Linked DNA regions of Homo sapiens. The protein of the gene in region 1 purifies or fractionates together with the protein of each later gene. This does not show direct contact. Each region holds a gene or a part of one and is shown in the gene's direction. Other genes may lie near its edges. The genes, in order: ZFPM2, SPSB4 and SPSB1.

What was found.
Region 2: the proteins of ZFPM2 (region 1) and SPSB4 purify together in Homo sapiens (affinity purification with western blotting; one study listed by BioGRID). This does not show direct contact.
Region 3: the proteins of ZFPM2 (region 1) and SPSB1 purify together in Homo sapiens (affinity purification with western blotting; one study listed by BioGRID). This does not show direct contact.

What each region holds. Positions count from the first base shown.
Region 1 is NC_000008.11:105,800,787-105,804,437, forward strand, and holds part of ZFPM2 (zinc finger protein ZFPM2), read left to right. Parts: intron 1-260; coding exon 261-2,752; 3' UTR 2,753-3,651. UniProt on the Homo sapiens protein: Transcription regulator that plays a central role in heart morphogenesis and development of coronary vessels from epicardium, by regulating genes that are essential during cardiogenesis.
Region 2 is NC_000003.12:141,064,734-141,068,384, forward strand, and holds part of SPSB4 (SPRY domain-containing SOCS box protein 4), read left to right. Parts: intron 1-1,218; 5' UTR 1,219-1,371; coding exon 1,372-2,065; intron 2,066-3,651. UniProt on the Homo sapiens protein: Substrate recognition component of a SCF-like ECS (Elongin BC-CUL2/5-SOCS-box protein) E3 ubiquitin-protein ligase complex which mediates the ubiquitination and subsequent proteasomal degradation of target proteins.
Region 3 is NC_000001.11:9,299,283-9,302,933, forward strand, and holds part of SPSB1 (SPRY domain-containing SOCS box protein 1), read left to right. Parts: intron 1-3,651. UniProt on the Homo sapiens protein: Substrate recognition component of a SCF-like ECS (Elongin BC-CUL2/5-SOCS-box protein) E3 ubiquitin-protein ligase complex which mediates the ubiquitination and subsequent proteasomal degradation of target proteins.

The sequences.
Region 1 (3,651 bases):
CATCTATAAAATGGAGACACTGACACTTATTCCACTTTGATGCCATAATATTCATGAAAGTACTTTGAAAACTATAAAGTGCTATTAATATTATCATACACAGTAAGAGATGTCACAAGAAAACAGTTAATATCACGAATGAAATTTTGAAAGATTTCATTCCTATTGTGTTGCAAACATTAGGTCATTAGAAAAGGTCCCTGTCATTCAAAAACCAACACACATGTTTCTCATTGTTCTTATTTTGTATGTCTCTCTAGGAGTGAAAATGGAAGAATTCCTGCCCCCTGGTGCTAGTCTAAAATGCACCGTCTGTAGCTACACTGCTGATTCCGTGATCAACTTTCACCAACACCTGTTCTCCCATCTCACTCAAGCTGCCTTCCGATGTAATCACTGCCATTTCGGCTTCCAGACTCAGAGGGAGTTATTGCAGCACCAGGAGCTCCATGTCCCTAGCGGCAAACTTCCCAGAGAAAGTGACATGGAACACTCTCCAAGTGCAACTGAAGACAGCTTACAGCCAGCCACAGACTTATTGACCAGAAGCGAACTTCCCCAGAGCCAAAAGGCCATGCAGACTAAAGATGCGAGCTCTGACACAGAGCTGGACAAGTGTGAGAAAAAGACTCAGCTCTTTCTCACGAACCAGAGACCAGAGATACAGCCTACAACAAATAAACAAAGCTTTTCTTACACAAAAATAAAGTCTGAGCCCTCTAGCCCAAGACTTGCCTCATCTCCAGTTCAGCCTAATATTGGGCCTTCTTTCCCTGTGGGCCCTTTCCTATCTCAGTTTTCTTTCCCCCAAGATATCACCATGGTCCCTCAAGCTTCAGAGATCTTAGCTAAGATGTCTGAACTGGTGCATCGGCGACTGAGGCATGGCAGTAGTAGCTACCCTCCCGTCATTTACAGCCCTTTGATGCCCAAGGGGGCTACTTGTTTTGAGTGTAACATAACATTCAATAATTTGGATAATTATCTAGTGCACAAAAAGCATTATTGCAGCAGCCGATGGCAGCAGATGGCTAAGTCCCCAGAGTTCCCTAGTGTGTCAGAAAAGATGCCTGAAGCTTTGAGTCCCAACACTGGCCAAACCTCCATAAACCTTCTCAACCCAGCTGCTCATTCTGCTGATCCTGAGAATCCACTTCTTCAAACATCTTGCATCAATTCTTCCACTGTCTTAGATTTAATTGGGCCAAATGGGAAGGGCCATGACAAGGACTTTTCCACTCAAACTAAGAAGCTCTCCACCTCCAGTAACAATGATGACAAAATTAATGGAAAACCTGTTGATGTGAAAAATCCCAGTGTCCCCTTAGTGGATGGGGAAAGTGACCCAAATAAGACTACCTGTGAAGCTTGCAACATTACCTTCAGCCGGCACGAAACATACATGGTCCACAAACAGTATTACTGTGCTACACGCCACGACCCTCCACTGAAGAGGTCTGCTTCCAACAAAGTGCCTGCCATGCAGAGAACCATGCGCACACGCAAGCGCAGAAAGATGTATGAGATGTGCCTACCTGAGCAGGAACAAAGGCCTCCACTGGTTCAGCAGAGATTTCTTGACGTAGCCAACCTCAATAATCCTTGTACCTCCACTCAAGAACCCACAGAAGGGCTAGGAGAGTGCTACCACCCAAGATGTGATATCTTTCCAGGAATTGTCTCTAAACACTTGGAAACTTCTCTGACGATCAACAAGTGTGTTCCAGTTTCCAAATGTGATACTACTCATTCCAGTGTTTCCTGCCTAGAGATGGACGTGCCCATAGATCTCAGCAAAAAGTGTTTATCTCAGTCTGAGCGGACGACCACGTCTCCCAAAAGGCTGCTGGACTATCACGAGTGCACTGTGTGCAAGATCAGTTTCAATAAGGTAGAAAACTATCTGGCCCACAAGCAGAATTTCTGCCCGGTTACTGCACATCAGCGTAATGACCTGGGTCAACTGGACGGCAAAGTGTTTCCGAATCCAGAAAGCGAACGAAACAGCCCTGATGTCAGCTACGAAAGAAGCATAATAAAATGTGAGAAAAATGGGAATTTGAAGCAGCCTTCCCCCAATGGAAACTTATTTTCATCCCACCTAGCAACCCTGCAAGGCTTGAAGGTCTTTAGTGAAGCTGCTCAGCTCATTGCTACAAAAGAAGAAAACAGACATTTGTTTCTTCCACAATGCCTTTACCCTGGAGCAATAAAGAAAGCAAAAGGAGCCGACCAGCTTTCTCCATATTATGGAATCAAGCCAAGTGATTATATTTCTGGTTCTCTTGTCATCCATAACACTGACATCGAGCAAAGCAGAAATGCAGAAAATGAATCTCCTAAAGGCCAGGCTTCCTCAAATGGGTGTGCTGCGCTGAAGAAAGATTCTCTGCCATTGTTGCCCAAAAATCGAGGAATGGTAATAGTGAATGGTGGACTGAAACAAGATGAGAGACCTGCTGCCAACCCACAGCAAGAGAACATTTCCCAGAATCCTCAGCACGAAGACGACCACAAATCTCCCTCGTGGATCTCTGAGAACCCATTAGCTGCCAATGAGAATGTCTCACCAGGAATTCCCTCAGCAGAGGAACAGTTGTCTAGTATAGCAAAAGGTGTGAATGGTTCCAGCCAGGCTCCAACCAGTGGGAAATATTGCCGGCTATGTGATATCCAGTTCAACAACCTTTCAAACTTTATAACTCACAAGAAGTTTTATTGCTCATCACATGCAGCAGAACATGTCAAATGAACTAACTAAACATCAGTCACCTTTGGTATCAGTGTTTAGTATGTTGTTCTAACCAGTCCAGAAAAAAAAATAAGCTGTTTGAATTACATCTGGGCAATCAGGAGATAATTCATTATGGCTGAGTTGAAGACTTAAGGTGTAATTTCATTACAGTCCATTAGTAAAGTGTATTATTGGTGCCATTTTCAAAAAAATTAATTTATTTTACCAGCAGTATTCATAGCTGTGGTTATGTTATTTTTTATTTAAAAACTTTATATTAAAGTCATTTGTAATGTTATTGTATAGTTATTGTGTAGCACATATGGTTTGCACTGTATAGTAGCTTTTAAAGAAAATAGTCACAATACAGAAAAGCATTTTAGAAATAGCTTCAAAAGCACTTGTGTATCTTGATTTTTTCTTATATGCTGTTGCAGATATATGTATATGCTAAAATATAACTTGCAAAGATGTTCTAAATACACATGCTATAAGTTCGCCTTAAGATTTCAATTCTTGGATAATCAGGCTCTGTTTGCACTTTATATTTTAGCAGATACAGTCTCTTAGTCACTAGGCTTTGCATTTGTATGTAGCTGTATGTTTCCGTCCATTTTCTTAATCCTGAACCTGTATGTTAAATGAAGATGGCAATTTTTTTCTTGTATAGTACTTGTATTTTCTTTCGCTGATGCAGCTCTGTCTCAATTTTTAAACCTTTGCTGTTAAATGCAATACTTTATAAAGAATGAACAAAATTACTGGAAGCAGTATTGTAAGTAATGAGGTAGTATTAATCAGTTTTATCTTTTGAAAGGCACAGTCTAAATCGAAACCCTAAACTCAATGCTGCAAGTATGAATTTAATTCATATATAAGATCTATTTAAATATAAGAGTAGCAATACTGCACCTGGT
Region 2 (3,651 bases), on another chromosome or scaffold:
AGGGGAGGGCACACGCCTCTGCTCTGGACAGGGCTTGGCTCTCCATCTCTCTCCATACCCAGGGCCCGTCCAAGTAGTCCGAGCTCCTTGGGTTCTGTCTGGTTTCCTAGTGATGGTGGCCAATTCCTTCTCCATGAAAACCAGGATCCTGTCTCAGGGAAGGCAGTCTGGGGTCAGTGCTGTTAATGGTATTTACCTGATCGAACAAAGAGCTCACCCATCCAAAGGGAGGGGATCCACATGGGATGCCCAGAGAACAGAGCCAGAGAGGAAAACCTGTCGGCAGAGTTCCAGGACCCTTTATATTATGGTCTCTCAAGTTCCCCCATCACCAGAGGGAGGTGTTTTATCCTCATGTTTTTTACTGGCAAGAAATCTGGAGTATCCAAGAGGCTAGGAGGCTTTCCTGTGGACCCACAGTAGGAGATGGAGAGAGGGATTTGGACGCAGTTCTGTCTGGCTCCAGAGCCTGGACACCGGCTCCCTTATCCTTCCTCCTCACCTCTATTGACCTCCATTCACCTTCCCATGGAGCTCTCACCCCATCTTCCCACGCTGCCTGATGTCCATGTCCCTGGTGACCCTGCTGCACCTTGTTCTGTGTCTTGCCGCTCAAGCCTGGCTACATTTTAGGAGGTTATTTAGGCTCCCCAGGACTCCAGGGTTGGGAACCAATGGGCCACACCCTACAGCCCTGTGTCTTGAGCAGCTGTGTGCCCCCCAGCCTTGGCACAAGGCTTGTCCCCTGGGATCAAAAGCACCTGGGTTCTCATCCAGGCTCTGACCTTGAGCAAGTCACAACTGCTCTGGGCTCACGCCTTATTTCTAAAATCAGACTCCCTATGATTGTTCTAGGTCCGGAACACAGACCCTGAAGCCAGATGACCTTGGTTTGAATCTTGGCTCAGTCACTTATTTGCAGTGGGACTTCGGCTAATCGCTTATCCTCTCTCTGACTTCAGTGTTCTCATCTGTAAATTGTGAATAATAATGTATATCTCTTATAGGGAGATGTTAAGGATTAAACAAACTAATAAACATAAATAATTTAGAACACTGGCATATGGCAGGTGCTAGATTAGTGCCAGATATGAGTGTACGAATTATTACTATTATTGTGCATGCAAAGGGCTCAGCCAAGGCATGGACATAAATGAAGGGATTGGCAACTGGCTGCTGATGCTGCTGCTATAACCCGTGCCCTTTGCTTCCTTCCAGGAGCTTGGGCCCCTGCCGCAGCCCGGTAGAGGCTGTGGAGGTCTACCGTCCGGAAGCCTGGTTCCCAGCCCCGTGGCCCATTCCTGGCTACGGGGAGTGGAGGCTCCCACGAGGTAGCGGTGGCCTGCAGCGGCCTCCTCCCCGCAGTGAAGCATGGGCCAGAAGCTCTCGGGGAGCCTCAAGTCAGTGGAGGTGCGAGAGCCGGCGCTGCGGCCGGCCAAGCGGGAGCTGCGGGGTGCAGAGCCCGGGCGGCCGGCGCGGCTGGACCAGCTGTTGGACATGCCAGCGGCGGGGCTGGCTGTGCAGCTGCGGCACGCGTGGAACCCCGAGGACCGCTCGCTCAACGTCTTCGTCAAGGACGACGACCGGCTCACCTTCCACCGGCACCCCGTGGCCCAGAGCACCGACGGCATCCGCGGCAAGGTGGGCCACGCCCGCGGCCTGCACGCCTGGCAGATCAACTGGCCGGCTCGGCAGCGCGGCACCCACGCTGTAGTTGGTGTGGCCACGGCCCGTGCTCCCCTGCACTCCGTGGGCTACACGGCGCTGGTAGGCAGTGACGCCGAGTCGTGGGGCTGGGACCTGGGCCGCAGCCGCCTCTACCACGACGGCAAGAACCAGCCCGGCGTGGCCTACCCGGCCTTTCTGGGGCCCGACGAGGCCTTTGCGCTGCCCGACTCGCTGCTCGTGGTGCTGGACATGGATGAGGGCACACTCAGCTTCATCGTGGATGGCCAGTACCTGGGCGTGGCCTTCCGAGGTCTCAAGGGCAAGAAGCTGTACCCGGTGGTGAGTGCCGTGTGGGGCCACTGTGAAGTCACCATGCGCTACATCAACGGCCTTGACCGTAAGTTGTGCTGGGCTGGGGGGCAGGGCTTTCAGAGGCTGCCAGGCCCTAGGGAAGCTGGGCAGGCCACACCTCCATCGCCACTTGGGAGGATCCTGCAATGTGGAGGAATGGTCAGGACCTGGGTTTCAATCCTGACTCTCTGCTGGCTTGGTGATTTGGGGCTGTGCCTTAGTTCTCCCATCGGCAAAAGCATCACGATGATAGTAATCTAGCTCACAGTTGTAACGATCAAATAAAGTAATAGTAATCTAGCTCACAGTTGTGAAGATCTAGATAACATGTGTGAAGTGCTCAGAACAGTGACTGGCACCCAACAGGGGCTTTGAGTGTTGATGCCAATTACCAATCTTCCAGTCTGTACAAAGGTTGTACCAAATGACCCAAGCTAGTCACAATGGGAAGACAGTGACAAGTCCCCAGTCCCTGCACTTAAATGCCATGTACTCAAGTTATTGATAAGTAATAAGTACTGATAACCGTCCTTTATTGGCCATCTACTGTATTTGAGAGGCTGAACACCCCAATTCCAGCGCTTATGGGCCAACTATTAAAGGGGACAGCTGCCTCTTATCTCCAGCCGACTGTCATCTCACGGGAATGAAAACCCTGGGTTGTGGAATCTTGTGACTTTTTCCAAGAGAGCCCAGAAATCTAGCTTGTGTGAACTGTTCCAATTTTTAAAGTTGACAGCTGCTGAAAAGTCTATATGGGCAAACAAAATACCCTTGCAGGCTACAAACCAGCCCACAAGCTGCTGGGGTTGACCCCTGACAACTCTATGGCTTCCTCTCATTTAATATACACAACCATCCGGCAAGATAAAAAGTGTAGGAACAAAGACGGTTATTGGTTTTGGGAGGGAGTCACTCAGGGAGACAGGGTGGCCTCTGGACAGAGGCACACGTGGCTGCCTGTCCTGAGTTGAATCCCAGCTGAGGGGCCAGGAGCCAGGCACTTGTGGGCTTGCACACTCCCCAACATCAGCCCACTAGCACCAATCCAGACTTCCTGCCACACCCCAATGAAGCTCTCAGAGGTGGCGCTGAAAGCTAGAATTTCCAGTTTATTCATTCTAAATAAGAGATGTAATTACCAGCCCCTGAGGCAGATCCTCCTTTTAGAAATAAGAAAACTTAAGAGCAGAGCTACAGAGAGCCAGAATCAGGGTTCCCCCCAGTTCTGATGGCCCTGAAGTCCACTCGTTTCCTATGTTCTCCCCTTTAGATGAGGGACTGAGAGTAACACTCCAGAAAAGAGTAACACTTCTCCAGAAAAGAAGTCAAGGACAAGATTTTACTCAAGCAAAATTTACATTTACTGGAGCACAGGAAGGGGACATTTGATGGTTTCCAAGGGTGGCAGGCTAATGGAAAAGTGGCTGCTGGTATGCTCAGCACTCTGGCATAATTGTCGACATTCTTGCTCATATTTTATTTCCGTGGTTGTTGCCTACAATTGCCATTGAATGGCAAAATGTTGTTCCATTTTCTCTGTTTAATGGGTTAAATCTAGGAACTGATGATTATGTCCCTGAGAAGGGCTAATTTAGTCATCACAGTGCCTTGTGGAAAGTGTCTGGAGCC
Region 3 (3,651 bases), on another chromosome or scaffold:
GCTCTCCAGCCCTATGTCACAGTTTAGTTCACAGTCATCTTGATCACCTTTCCCTTCCACAGATATCATACTGGGGCTGGGCACGGTGGCTCACTCCTGTAATCCTAGCACTTCAGGAGGCCGAGGCAGGAGGATCGCTTGAACTTAGGAGTTTGAGACCAGCCTGGGCAACACAGTGAGACGTCATCTCTCTCTCTCTCTCTCTCTTTTTTTGAGATGGATTTTTTGCTCTTGTTGCCTAGGCTGGAGTGCAATGGTGCAATCTCGGCTCACTGCAACCTCCGCCTCCCGGGTTCAAGCAATTCTCCTGCTTCAGCCTCCTGAGTAGCTGGGATTACAGGCATGCGCCACCACACCCAGCTAATTTTTTGTATTTAGTAGAGACAGGGTTTCACTATGTTGGTCAGGCTGGTCTTGAACTCCTGACACCAAGTGATTCACCCGCCTTGGCCTCCCAAAGTTCTGGGATTACAGGCATGAGCCACTGCGCCCGGGCCGACATCATCTCTATAAATTTTTTTTTTTTTTAAATTAGCCAGGCATGATGGTGTGTGCCTGTGGTCCCAGCTACTTGGGTGGCTGAGGTGGGAGGATCGCTTGAGCCTAGGAGGTCAAGACTTGCAGTGAGCAGTGATTGTGTTACTTTACTCCAACCTGGGCAACAGAGTAAGACCCTGTCTCAAAAAAAAAAAAAAAAAAAGGGTCTCATGCTGGTCCATTACATTGATGTCATCATGCTTCATTGGACCTAGTGAGCAAGAAGTCGCAACCACTGTAGCCTTATTGGTAGGACATTTACATGTCAAGCGATGGGAAATAAATTCTACTGAAATTCGGGGACCTTCTCCCTTAGTGAAATTTCTCGGGGTCCAGTAGTGTCAGGCCTGTGAAGGTATCCCCTCTAAGGTGAAGAATAAGTTGTTACAGCTTTCCTCCTGCAACCAAGAAAGAGGCACAATGCCTCGTGGGCCTGTTTGGACTTTGGAGGCAACACATTCCTCATTTGGGTGTGTTACTCCAGCCCATTTGCTGAGTCACCCTAACGCTTCTAGTTTTGAGTGGGGCCCGTAGCAGAAGACTGCAACAGGTCCAGGTTGCTGTGCAACCTGCTTTGCCACTTGGGCCACCAGCAGATCCAGTGGTGGTTGAGGTCAGCGGCAGACAGGGAGGCTGCTTAAAGCCTTTGGCAGGCCCCTGTAGATGAATCGCAGTACAGGCCTTGGGATTTTGGAGCAAGGCCCTGCCATCATCCACAAATAACTTCATTCCTTTTGAGAGACAGCTCTTGGCCTAATACTGGACCCTAGTAGAGACTTAATGTTTGACCATCAGCCACGAAGTTGCCATGTGACCTGAGCTGCCCATCATGAAGTGGGTGTTATCTATGATCTGACCGACCAAACCAGACATTGGGCATGTGTGGCAGAACGCTGCCATCGAGAGGAAGTGGTATATATGGGATCAGGTCTGAGCAGGTCCTGAAGGCACAAGTAAGTGACATGAGGAAGTGGTCCAAAGGCCCATGGTTCTTACTTTGCCCACTGCCTTCTCTCTCCAGCCTGTATCTATGGTCTCCTGGGGAGTTCCCTCTGATCGATTGACAGTGGAAGAGAAGACTTAGTCAGCCTGGTTTGCAGATGGCTACAGATGGCTCTGCACTATATGAAGGCACAACCCGAAAGTGGACAGCTGCAGCACTATAGCCCCTTGCTGGGACACCTCTGAAGGATGGGGGTGAAGGGAAATCCTCCCTGGCAGAGCTTCGGGCAGTGCACCTGGTTGTGCACCTTGCTTCGAAGGAGAGATGGCCAGATGAGTGATTATATACTGATCCATGGGCTGTGCCTGATGATTTGGCTGGATGGTCAGGGATTTGGGGACTTGGAAAGAGTATGATTGGAAGATTGGTGACAAAGAAAGCTGGGGGCCTGGCATAGTGGCTCACACCTGTAATCCCAGCACTTTGGGAGGCCAAGGTGGGAGGATTGCTTGAGCCCAAGGAGTTCGAGACCAGCCTGAGCAACATAGTGAGACTCCCCGCCCCCGCCATCTCTACAAAAATAAAAAATTAGCTGGGCGTGGTAGCTCATGCCTGCAGTCCCAGCTACTTGGGAGGCTGAGGTGGGAGGATCACTTGAGCCTAGGAGGTTGAGGCTGCAGTGAGCTGTGATTGCTCCAGCCTGGGCAACAGAATGAGACCCTGTATCAAAAAACCCAACCAAACAAAAAAGCAATTGGGGGAAGATGTATGTGGATAGACCTGAGTGCGCACAGGACACGGATAGACCTCCCGAGTGCGCACAGGACATGAGGTATGTGGGTAGGATGACCTAGGTGGATTCTCGTCAGCCTCTTTCCCTGGCCACCCCTGTCATCGCCTGGTGGGCTCAGGAACAAAGTGGTCATGGTGGCAGAGATGGAGGTGATGCATGGGCTCAGCAGCATGGACTGCCACTCACCAAAGCCGACCTGGCTATGGCTACCACTGGCTGCTAGTCTGCCAGAAGCGGAGACTAACACTGAGCTCCAGTATGGCCCCATTCCCCGGGATGATCACTGCACCTGGTGGAAGGCACATTGGACCACTTCTGTTTTGGAAGGGGCAGCGTTTTGTCCTTACTGGAGCAGGCACTTATTCTGGATACAGATTCGTCTTCCCTGCACACAGTGCTTCTGCCAAAGTCACCATCCATTGATTGACAGAACACCTTTCCCACTGTCACGCTGTCCGTGTAGCACTGCTTCCAGGGAGCTCACTTCACAACCAAGGAAGTGTGGCACTGGGATCATGTGCAGGGAATTGGCCGGTGAGCACGAGCCCACTGGTTTCGCCTATCATGCTAAGTGGAACTACGGTCTTGTTATTGCCTTTATTTGGAAATTAAGTATGGTTTAAGAAGATGCCAGTGGGTGCCTATGGGTGCCAGTTGGTAAGGGGTGGACCTGTGATGATTGATTTTGGATGTCAACTTGACTAGATTAAGGAATACCCAGGTAGATGGTAAAGCATTGATTATTCTCTATGCTTCAGTACACACTGAGCCTGTCCCTTTTCTGCTGACAGGGAAGCCCAGTGGTTTGACATTGTGTAGAATGATCGGGCTGCCCCAGATGTGTCTGTGAGGGTGTTTTTGGAGGACACTGGCAATTGAGTCACTCAACTGGGTGGGGAGGATCTGCCCTCCATGTGGGCAGGCACCATCCAGTCAGCCGGGGGCCTGGAAGAAGGGTGAATCCTGGCTCTCTGTCCCGGAGCTGGGATGCTCTTCTCCTGCGCTTGGATGTCAGAACTCCAGGTTCTCTGGCCTTTGGACTCTGGGACTCGTACGAGTGGTCTCCGGAGTCTTTGACCTGGGACTGGGAATGACCACGTTCCCCACCATCCTGAAGCAGCTGACTTGAAAGAAGGGCAGTAGAGTCTTTTGAAGTTGCAATTACAATGCCAGCTAGGTGACAATACTTTGTAGGGCTGGGTCAGGGGTCTTCAAAAGGCTCTATGTACTCTGTATCAGCATCCAATATATGGTGCTGGTTTCTCCCGTAGCCAGGATTCACGGGTCCAGGAATCAAGGGGAGGAAATGGGAGTGGCACTGCGCATCATATCCCCTAGGGACCCGCTAGCGAAATTGTTGCTTCCTGTTCCTGTGACT